3 linked regions of the Homo sapiens genome follow. The protein of the gene in region 3 purifies or fractionates together with the protein of the main gene of each other region. This does not show direct contact. Each region holds a gene or a part of one and is shown on either strand. Other genes may lie near its edges. The genes, in order: KLHL18, N4BP1 and IL1F10.

The links.
Region 1: the proteins of IL1F10 (region 3) and KLHL18 purify together in Homo sapiens (affinity purification with mass spectrometry; one large-scale study listed by BioGRID and IntAct). This does not show direct contact.
Region 2: the proteins of IL1F10 (region 3) and N4BP1 purify together in Homo sapiens (affinity purification with mass spectrometry; one large-scale study listed by BioGRID and IntAct). This does not show direct contact.

The regions. Positions count from the first base shown.
Region 1 is NC_000003.12:47,289,323-47,292,978, reverse strand, and holds part of KLHL18 (kelch-like protein 18), read right to left. Parts: intron 1-3,656. UniProt on the Homo sapiens protein: Substrate-specific adapter of a BCR (BTB-CUL3-RBX1) E3 ubiquitin-protein ligase complex required for mitotic progression and cytokinesis.
Region 2 is NC_000016.10:48,554,657-48,558,312, reverse strand, and holds part of N4BP1 (NEDD4-binding protein 1), read left to right. Parts: intron 1-3,656. UniProt on the Homo sapiens protein: Potent suppressor of cytokine production that acts as a regulator of innate immune signaling and inflammation.
Region 3 is NC_000002.12:113,070,859-113,073,701, forward strand, and holds part of IL1F10 (interleukin-1 family member 10), read left to right. Parts: intron 1-1,459; exon of another isoform or gene 1,460-1,852; 5' UTR 1,853-1,880; coding exon 1,881-1,912; intron 1,913-2,843. UniProt on the Homo sapiens protein: Cytokine with immunomodulatory activity. Alone, does not induce cytokine production, but reduces IL22 and IL17A production by T-cells in response to heat-killed Candida albicans. Reduces IL36G-induced production of IL8 by peripheral blood mononuclear cells.

The sequences.
Region 1 (3,656 bases), on a different chromosome or scaffold from region 3:
CAGCAGAATTTTCTTCTTTTTAAAGGCTGAGTAATATTTCACTGTATGTATATACTTTTTTTTTTTTTTTTTTTGAGACAGGGTCTCGCTGTTGCCCAGGCTGAAGTGCAGTGGTATAATCATGGCTCACTGCAGCCTTGACCTCCCGGGGCTCAGGTGATTCTCGCACCTCAGCCTCCCAAGTAGCTGGAACTACAAGTGCATACCACCACGCCTGGCTAATTTTTGTATTTTTTGTAAAGACAAGGTTTTGACATGTGGCCCAGGCTGGTCTCAAACTCCTGGGTTCATGCCATCTGCCTGCCTTGGCCTCCCAAAGTGCTGGGATTATAGGCATCAGCCACTGTGTCCAGCCATATACCATATTTTGTTTATCCATTCACCCAGTGGTAGACCCTTGGGTTGCTTCCACCTTTTGGCTATTGTGAATAATGCTGCTGTGAACATTGGTGTACAAGTATCTATCTGTTCTTGAGCTTATTTTTTGAAAGCTTTTTTTTTTTTGAGATGGAGTTTCACTTTTGTTGCCTAGGCTGGAGTGCAATGGCACGATCTCGGCTCACTGCAACCTCTGCCTCCTGGGTTCAAGCAATTCTCCCGCCTCAGCCTCCCGAGTAGCTGGGACTACAGGCATGCGACACCACGCCTGGCTAATTTTATATTTTTAGTAGAGATGGGGTTTCACCATGTTGGTCAGGCTGGTCTCGAACTCCTGACCTCAGGTGATCCACCCACCCTGGCCTCCCAAAGTGCTGGGATTACAGGCGTGAAAAGCATTTTTGTGTTCTGATCAGCTATTCAGAACACTCTGCCCACATATACCATTATATTGGGTCATATTTGAACTACAGTTCACCTATTTTGCCTGCCAAAAGCCCAAGCTCTGACCTTTACCTTCAAGGCCCTGAACACAGACTGTCTGTTTCACTGGAACGTAAGAGCCATCAGGGTCTCTGGCCTGCCATTCTGCCAGCAGCTAAGCATCCTCAGCTTCAACTGAGACAGAATGGGAGCATGGTGTCTTTAGTTAAGACTTTGGAAACATTCTGCTTCAAGTTCCAGCAGAGCGTGAAGGCTTTACAAATGAGATGCTAAATTTAACAGTAACTTCTATGTTACTTACTCACTTACTAATCAGTATAGTCCCATGATCACCTGTAGTAAGCTGGGAAAATTTTTTTCACTTCCGGTTCATTTGTATTCTTTAACAAGAAATGCTTCAATTCCTAAATACTGTGTTGAAACTACAGAAGTATATGCTAGAGCAATAAATAATAAAAATAAAACCTACTTCAAAAGCCTTAGAGGCCCTATCAGTATATAACAGGTCAGTAAACTATAGGCAACGGATTCAGCTCATGCTTCTTTTGTAAAGTTTCACTGGAACACAGCCACACCCATTCATTTATACATTGTGTATAGCTGCTTTTGCACTATAGCATCAGAGTTAAGTAGCTGCAACTGAAACTATATTACCCACGAATCCTTAAGTATTTACTATCTGGCCCTTTACAGAAAATGCTTGTTAACTCTTAGTTCACGCACCTTGGTTCACCCACTTTTGTCCCCAATTGGAAAAAAGTGGTGATGTAATCAGCTGCTTGGATGTTCTTCCTAAGGTCTTCCTAAGCTAACCACAGGCCAGCTGGCTGGTTCCATGCCAAAGAGGCAATGACAGTGCCAATACTCAACAAGTTCGAAAGTAGAAAGGTAGCTGCCATGCTTGTAATTTGGGAAGGGCTAGGAACACACATTTAGAAAAACAATGTGGTCTCATCTTCCATCAACTAGCCTACAAGCTAAACCAAGTGGGGCTAAGGGGCAAACAATGGAGTCTCATGTACAGAATAATAAAGGAACCGTCTGCAGTTAAGAAACATCCCCAAGCACAGGCTTCTTAAATGTACCTGGCGAGCCAGTCAGCCAGCCAGCAAGCTCCAGAAGCCTTAGGGTGAACATGATGAATGTTGCTTGACTGGTAACGGATAGTCCAGGCTGTACCTCCAACTCTCTTTCCCCACCCACATGTCAGGCAGCATCAAGCTCTCTAATTCACCTAATTGGTGTCCAAATTTAACAGCATTATTCACAACATAACTTGAACAAGGAGATTAAAACTGAATTTTTGATAGGAAATTTGTATAACAAGTGCTGTGCCCCTCAAGGAGCATGTTCTTCCTCTCAGTTCTTATTGCTCATTAGAAAGAGACAAGGCTGGGCCAGGTGTGGTGGTTCATGCCTGTAATCCCAGCACTTGGGGAGGTGGAAGCAGGAGGATCGCTTGAGCCCAGGAGTTTGAGACCAGCCTAGACCACAAGGTGAGGCCCCATCTCTCAAAAAATAAACAAAATTAGCCAGGCGTGGTGGCATACACCTGTGGTCCCAGCTACTTGGGAGGCTGAGGTGGGAGGATGGCTTGAGCCAGGGATTTCGACGCTGCAGTGGGCTGTGATCCACCACTGTACTCCAGCCTGGGCAAGAGATGAGACCCTGTCTCAAGGAAAAAAAAAAAGAGGGAGACAAAGCTAACTACACAGAGAGAGATAAACCTAACTACATGAAAAATGTCAGTAGAAAACCCTGGGAATGAGCAATATTCAGAAGCACAAGTTTTCCAATACAATGTCATTTCAAAATCAGAGTCAAGAATTCATATGTCTAAAAGACTAGTAGAAAAAGCCTGCATCTTCTCTCCTGAAATAAAATGTTGGTGTGGCATCTGGACATTCACATCTTTGCCCTCTGTGCTCAAGAATGACACTAAGGATGCTTTGTTCCCTACTATGCTTCATACCATCAGCAGGGCAGGTGAATAATCTGACAGGATGTAAAAGCATGGCTTCCACCAATAAACAGCTGTGTTAGATCTCAGCTGATACAGCTTTGTGCCATGGGCAAATCCCTTAATAGCTCTAAGCCTCAGGGTTTTTTACATCTGTAAAATGATGGCTTAAAAATGTTTTTATTTGTATAAATTTAGGGGTACAAGGGCAGTTTTGATACATGGATATATTGCATAGTGGTGAAGTCTGGGCTTTTAGTGTAACCATCATCCAAATAATGTACATTGTACCCAGTAATTTCTCATCCCTCATCCCACTCCAGTCTCCATTCATTCCACACTCTATGTCCATGCATTCACATGTAAAATGATAGCTTTGATAGGGAACCTCTACAATTCTCTTTTTTCTTTTTTTGAGACAGAGTCACGCTATTGCCAGGCTGCAGTGCAGTCGTTCAACTATGGCTCACACTGCAGCCTTGACCTCCTGGGCTCAAGCAATCCTCCCACCTCACTTCCCAAAGTGCTGAGATTACAGATGTGAGCCACCGTACCCAGCCTACAGCTCCTTTTAATATGATTATTCTAGCTCTATAATTAACCCTGTGTAACTCACTGTACTATATACACAACATAAAAATGGTATGCATCAACAAGCCCTTACTTCATTTCCTCATATCCTTCTCCACCTACTCTTTCATCACAAAGCCAGTGGTGACAACAAATTAGGCAAGATTCCAGATTCAAATGTGTAGCTCTTGAAGCCAATTTCGTGAAAACTGTGTGCCTACATTTAGTGGGTAACACAAGGAAATATTCTAATACTGTACCTTTCACCCATGGAAAAAACATTTCCTTCTGAGGGCTAAATTAT
Region 2 (3,656 bases), on a different chromosome or scaffold from region 3:
TTCTTTTTTTTTTTTTTTTGGAAAACTGATTGTTTTGGGAGGATTTACATTTTCTTTGGATTCACAGATGTCTCTGTTTAAAGGCAATACTTTTACAAGAGAATGTGTTACTTTAAGAAGACAGACTTGTACTTAATTTGATGTAAATTGATCTGAAAATATCAGTAATTAAGATTTACCCATATTCTAGGAAGAAACTGCGTAATGGGTATAGAGTTTTATTTTGGAGTGACAAACATTTTGGAACTAGATGTAAGTGGTGGTTGCACGGCATTGCGAACGTAGTAAATGCCATTGAATTGATTATTTTAGTCGTGTGAATTTTACCTCAATTTTTTTTGGAAGTTGGAAAAAAATCAGCCCTTATTTTAAATCAGTTGCTTCAATGTTAAGTGTGAATAAACTTTGACTAGATTCCATGAAGAAACTGATTTGTGTTTCTTCTGTTCAGTGAACTACCTCTAATACCCATAGTCCCTGACACATAGTAGGAGCTCAGTAAAAACTTGTTGATGAATTAAAGGCAAATTAGAATTTTTCTTTTTTTAAGAGGTAAAGTCTCACTATTTTGCCCAGGCTGGACTCAAACTTTTGGGCTCAGGCAATCTTTCCTAGTAGCTGAGGCTATAGGCATGCCTTACCATGCCCAGTTTAGGATTTTTTTAGTGGCTTTTTACTACCTATTTGTAACTTCATGGTTACTATTCCAGTGGCCAGTTTAGATTTTTAACTGAGGCCATATATTTAATGCAACAAATATTTGAGATTTTAAAGCCGAATCACCCATTATTATGTGTCAGGCACTGTATTTTTAAAAATGCAACCTTCACACCAATTGTGAGTCAAAAGTTATAATTTATACAACATGAAGTGGCTTAAAAATGTTTTCCAGGGTTACATGGATAGAGATTTGGGCCCATAATGTCTTTCCCCAGAGCTGCTGTATACCCTCTCTCCTCCAGCAGAAGTTAAGGTTGGAATTTTCAGGCCAACGCATCATTGGATACTTAAGTCTTGGGTTGCATAGCACTGCTGACTAAAGCTCACTGATTTGACCCAAGTAGTTGGGGAAGTACTTATTTGGTCCTTAAGCAATAGGATCTGTTGGTGTGAGCCCCACCCTAAAGCAGCCTAGGCCCACCCTTCGATGTATTTTTGTAAAGCCTTTGTTCATTTGCCTATCCAGAATGAGGTCTGCAGCCCATACCACCATGAAAACCTCCACAGTACCCTGTTTAATGCTGCCAATTTTGTATACCTTGTTCTTGCCCCCTTGTCACCATGAATGAGTCAAATGATGAGTAAGTGGAAATTGTTTGTGGTGTATGGCTAGACAGCACAGTAGTGGCCAAGAAACATTTGGGCTCTGTCAGCCTGAAACTTCAGCATGAGAGCCCCTGACATATGGGGTGATAGTTTTCCATGTAGATGGGGTTTGCCCCTTCCCTTGCCAGAATTAAGTATTTTAGCCATTTTTTTTTCCATACTAGTCTTTTCCATATTAGGGTTCCATAAAAAGAAATCGCTTTTTCCTGGGTAACTCAGAAAGGACTTTCCATTGTCCCCACACTGCCCTGTCTGGTGCTATGGCTGCCATGAGTTTTTATCAGCTGTGTGTCACCCATCTCTCCTCCACTTTGGACACTTTCTTTTAGTTGCCAGCATTCTATAATATGGCAAACAACCAGATGATATAACCTTTAACCAATTATATGGAAGCAGGCATTTAAATGTCTTGAGGGCCTGGACACCTGGCCTCCCAGACTTGATAACTGTTCATTCTGCATTTGGAACTGGGAGCCCCAGAGCTTTGGCCTTCCCATAAGTAGCAAGGTGTTATTATATATATACTTTGGGTCGAAATAGACCTTTGGTCTGGGTTTACCTGTCAACATGCTACTCTGGTTTGATTGCAGAGAGGCTAGGAGACAGTGATGAGTAAGCACATGTCTGCCTGCTCAGGGTATAGGACTTGAAGTAGGAAGAAGGGTCCTTAATCGACCCTCTGTATTATTTTGAGGACAATAATTTGGCTTCACTTAATTTTTTGTCATTGTAGTTTTATTTTTTGGGTAAATTTGTATGTTCTCCACCAGAATTTTGAACCTCTATTTTAATTCCATTCCTGAGATTTTTTTAGAGTATCAAAAGTGATATGATCTTATTACTGAGAATAACACTTTGGAATTTAGTTGAGAGCTGATGTTTCTAGAACCTCCATCTGTTCCCCCTCTAGACTTGTAAGGAGTCCAGGGCAGCAGAATTCATCGGTCTGCATTTCCTTCCTTGTTACATAGTGACCCAGTGGAATTGAACTGGGTACTCCTCCTCTATCCAGTTCCTCCTCTTGCCATCACTAGAAGCTTTAAGGAAAAGAGGGAGAGTAGGTAGCACACATTTGTATCTGTCAAAGTAATCAGGGAGCCACCTTAAAAACCTTTTCAGTGCAGTTATCTCAAGGGTTATCCTTTTGAGGACTAAATATACATATTTCTTGGTTTTTCTAAGAACCAGCAGGTTGTTCTGTTGTGGATTTTCAAATTAGGGCTGTGGTTGATGTTAACTCTGGGCATGTCCCTGCTGTTAAGCAATTAGAGTGATGGATGATTTATTGTTTTTGGAAGATTAAAAGAGGCCCCCTTTAAAGAACCACCCCCAGTCTTTTTTCTAGTTAAAAATGTCACTTTGTTACCTTCTTGCCATATTTGAATGCCTTTAGATAAACAAAGCACTCCTGAATTATCAAGATTGCGTGTGTTTATTTACATATATTTTCTGGGGTAAGAGCCTCTGAAATATCTTATTTATGGTTCACTGAAAAAGAAATAGCCTTTAAAAAGAGGAGTCTGTGCGTAGCTCTTGTGAATCTCACAGAGCATTAGATGTTCGTGAAGTGTCCAGCCTCTTCCTGCTCTCAAGGAACGCACATGCAGGTGGGGTGACAGTCCCACTGTGGGGTCGTGGAAAGGGCAGGCGTGAGGAAGCCGGAGTATGATCCAGCTCATCCCCCTGGCTCTGCAACCCAGGCAGGCTGCTCTTTCCCTAGTGACTCCTTTTTCTAACAGGCATAATGCCATTCTATCTCTGTGATTCTCGTGCACCATACAGGATTGGAACTCAGAAGAGGAAGGAGGCTGAGAGAGGCCCTGTGTCTAGAAATAACTTCATAGAAGAAGACGGGCCAGAATTCAGCCCATTCAGTCCTGAGGGCATTTGAAGAAGGAGCAAGGAAAGGTGCAAGAGCATCACACATATAGAAAGCAACATAAGGAAAGGCTCAGAGACCGGGAGGGGTGAGATAGCAAGACCTGGCCAAAACCAAGAGGGTTGTCTCATGGTAGTGGGAGGGTCACTTGGCCAGATCCTTTCTGACGAGTCAGACGAGGAGGGGTCCTGGAAGCCAGGCAGGATTAGTGTAGGACAGTGCCTTTGAAGGCCCTGAGCAGAATCAAAGGCCTTGGGCTGCATTTAAAAGTTAGTTTCACTGGAATTTGCAGGGTAGGTTGGAATTAGGAGAGCCTGGGTTTAACTCGGGACACATATGCCCATCATGGCAGGACTTTCAAGTGAAGTATTTCTACAGAGCAGTTTTGGCATGCAGCATTAGACATGGAGAGAAGATAGGACTGAAGATGCAGGGAGTATTGTCGCTGGAA
Region 3 (2,843 bases):
AGTTCCCAAGCAGCATGGCTGATTGCTGGAATCACTCCAAGTCCTACTGAATTAGAACCTTCGGCCCAGGAAATAGTAATTATACAGAGTCCCCCAGGTGATGCAGATGGGCAGGCACATTTAGGAGCCAATGACTTTAACTGAACACTTCATTTAAAAAATGTTGAAACTTACTTGATACTACAAAGGAAATTCATGTTCATTATAGGAAAATGTTGATATGTTTAAAAAATTACTCATAAAGCCATAGGTAAGTGGTGCAACAACACGAGTAACATTTCTATGTATGTGTCTCTATGTGTGGATTTAAATAGAATTACAGTGTACACTTGATTTATAATCTGCATTTTTCACCTAATATATTTTGAAAATTTTTATGTCCTAAAACAAGCTTCTATAATATCATCTTTAACAAACACATACATCCTTATTTATTGAATTTTGCTATAATTTCTTAGCCAATTACCTATTACTGAAAATTCAGATTTTTTTCAACTTCTTGCTATTGTAAAAAATTATGCAGTGAACATTTTTGTAAGTAAACATTTGGGCAATCCGTTATTTTTCCTAAGAGTAAGGGAAACACATGCAATCACAAAGTATACAGAATGCTTTAAGACTTTCATTCACAGCACCAACATCCCTCCAGAATTTGCACTTGTTAGTCCCTATTATCCTTCACTCTAAGTCTCAAAGTCATACCCCAAGGCCTGGGGACAGAAAATGACTTGTCCAAAGTGACAGTGACAGACCCAGTACTAAAAGCCACCTTGGCTACAGCCCTGTTTCTGGAACTTGAGAGCTGAGGTGGTTGGAAGCCGTATCCTCAGCACCCACCTGTTCCTTCTCACCTGCCTCCCCAGGGTCCCTCAGCATCTCTCTATTCCTCCCTGAGCCCTATTACTTTCTTCCACCTGCCTTCTTCCTTTCTCTTCTCTCATTTTCTGCTTTCTTATATTTTTTCTTCTCTATTCCCTTCTTATTTGGTGAGAATCAGATCTACTCGGTAAACCTCAGCCCTAGTCATACTTGCGTTACTTTCCTGAGCTAATTTCCAACTCCTGATTAGCTCTGGGTTTATTTCCATGCTAAATTCTGGACTGGCCTTTCCAATGGGTGTTCATTTTAGGGAAGAGCTCTAGGACAGGATAACCCATCGGGAAGGAGCAGAGTCATGTGAGGCTGTGTGGCCTGGCATTTATACAGGGCCACTATCTTCACTGTGCCATTTTCCATCTGGAACAGAATGGGGGAGTTTGGATGGGCTGTTTTCGGCAGTCTTGGCCAAGCACTTCTAGTCACTAGGAATGATGTTTTCCAACTCTCTGGGGAGACCCCACCAGCCTCACTGCTGCTGGAGACCCCTTCTAGTTGTGCTCTCTTCTTTCACTCTGGGCTCTAGTTATCTAACCCTTGGCTAGTTATGGGGGCGGGGGTGTGGTGCCCTGTTGGCCAACAGGGCAGTGGGACTGGGTTTGAGCTGGGCTTATCCTCCAACTGTGAGGGAGGCTACAGCACACTCCACCCCACTCTCAGGGCTGGGAATTGTTGTGGCTCAGCTATTTGGGGGAATCTGTTTTCCAGTTTCTCAGAACCAGCGCAAGCACACACATCCCAGGCTCACACCCCTGGTGGCTGGACTTGCTCCCGGATAGCCTCAGTCAGGGAGAGGCAGAGCTGCCTGGAGCCTGCTGGGCTGGTGGAAGCCTTGGTGGATTCTGGCAGGCCAATTATAGACGAATGGCCTGGGGAACCCGTGCAGCCCTTGGCTGAGTGGTTCTAAGCCCCAGCACGTCTGCCTCTGGCTTCACCCAGCCTCCTTTTCTAACTGCCCTTCTCTCCTCCCCATCAGTGAGGACCAGACACCACTGATTGCAGGAATGTGTTCCCTCCCCATGGCAAGATACTACATGTAAGTTGTCCTGGCATGTCCCTGCTTTCCAAGCCAGGGGGTCAGGGTGGGAAGAGGAAAGGAATGCTGAGTCAGAGGATGAGGCTCCTTCTCACCTTAGAAATTGCAAGTGCCCCATAATTAAGCTTCATCATCACCACAGTAGCAACAGCTCTTTCCTGAACGTCTGCAAGATGCCAGCCAATCTACTGCCTCATCTCTGTTCCAAAAAGTCTGTAAGTGGAGTGTTATTAAACCCATTTTACAGATCTGGAAGCTGAGGCTCAAAGAGGGTAAATAACTTCCCCCATGTCACACAGCTACCAAAAGGCAGAGCCAGGAATCAGACTTCATGTCCTCTGTGCTGCTCCATCCGCCTCTCTGAAATGTCAGAAAGTTTTGAATCTCAATGACAGCATCTTGATGGTGGTCCCTGTGGCCTTTACTCCCAGTGTGGGCTTCTAACACTTACTTACATTTCATCTCATTTGAGATTTGCATCCTTCCTTATCTTTTACTACTTTGTTGTCTGTGATTTTGTCATAAGCTCCTTTCAGGAAGGAGGTGAGGCATAAGAAAAATCAAAGAGGACTCTGGGATGCATTTCCTCTGCCCCTCCCATGGACCCTGTAATGTCCAGGGCTGTGTCCTGGACAAGGTGGGTGGGGAGCAGTCCTGGTCTCAAGGAGGTGACAGCCTGGCTGGGAAGCAAGACACATACATAGGAAGCACATAAATGACAAAGCAGATGTCAGCACTTCAGGGCATCTAATCTGGGTTCTGGTCTCCAAATAGAATGCTGCTGGCATGTGAGTTGTCACATCTGGGTTGTCAAGGTGGCAAGGGGAATGCCAGATAACACGCCCAGGATCTTTCCGGAAGTTTATTTTTATTGTACAAGTGAACCTGCTTTAAATATGTACAGTCATTAGCTAAGGGTATTATCGTTAGC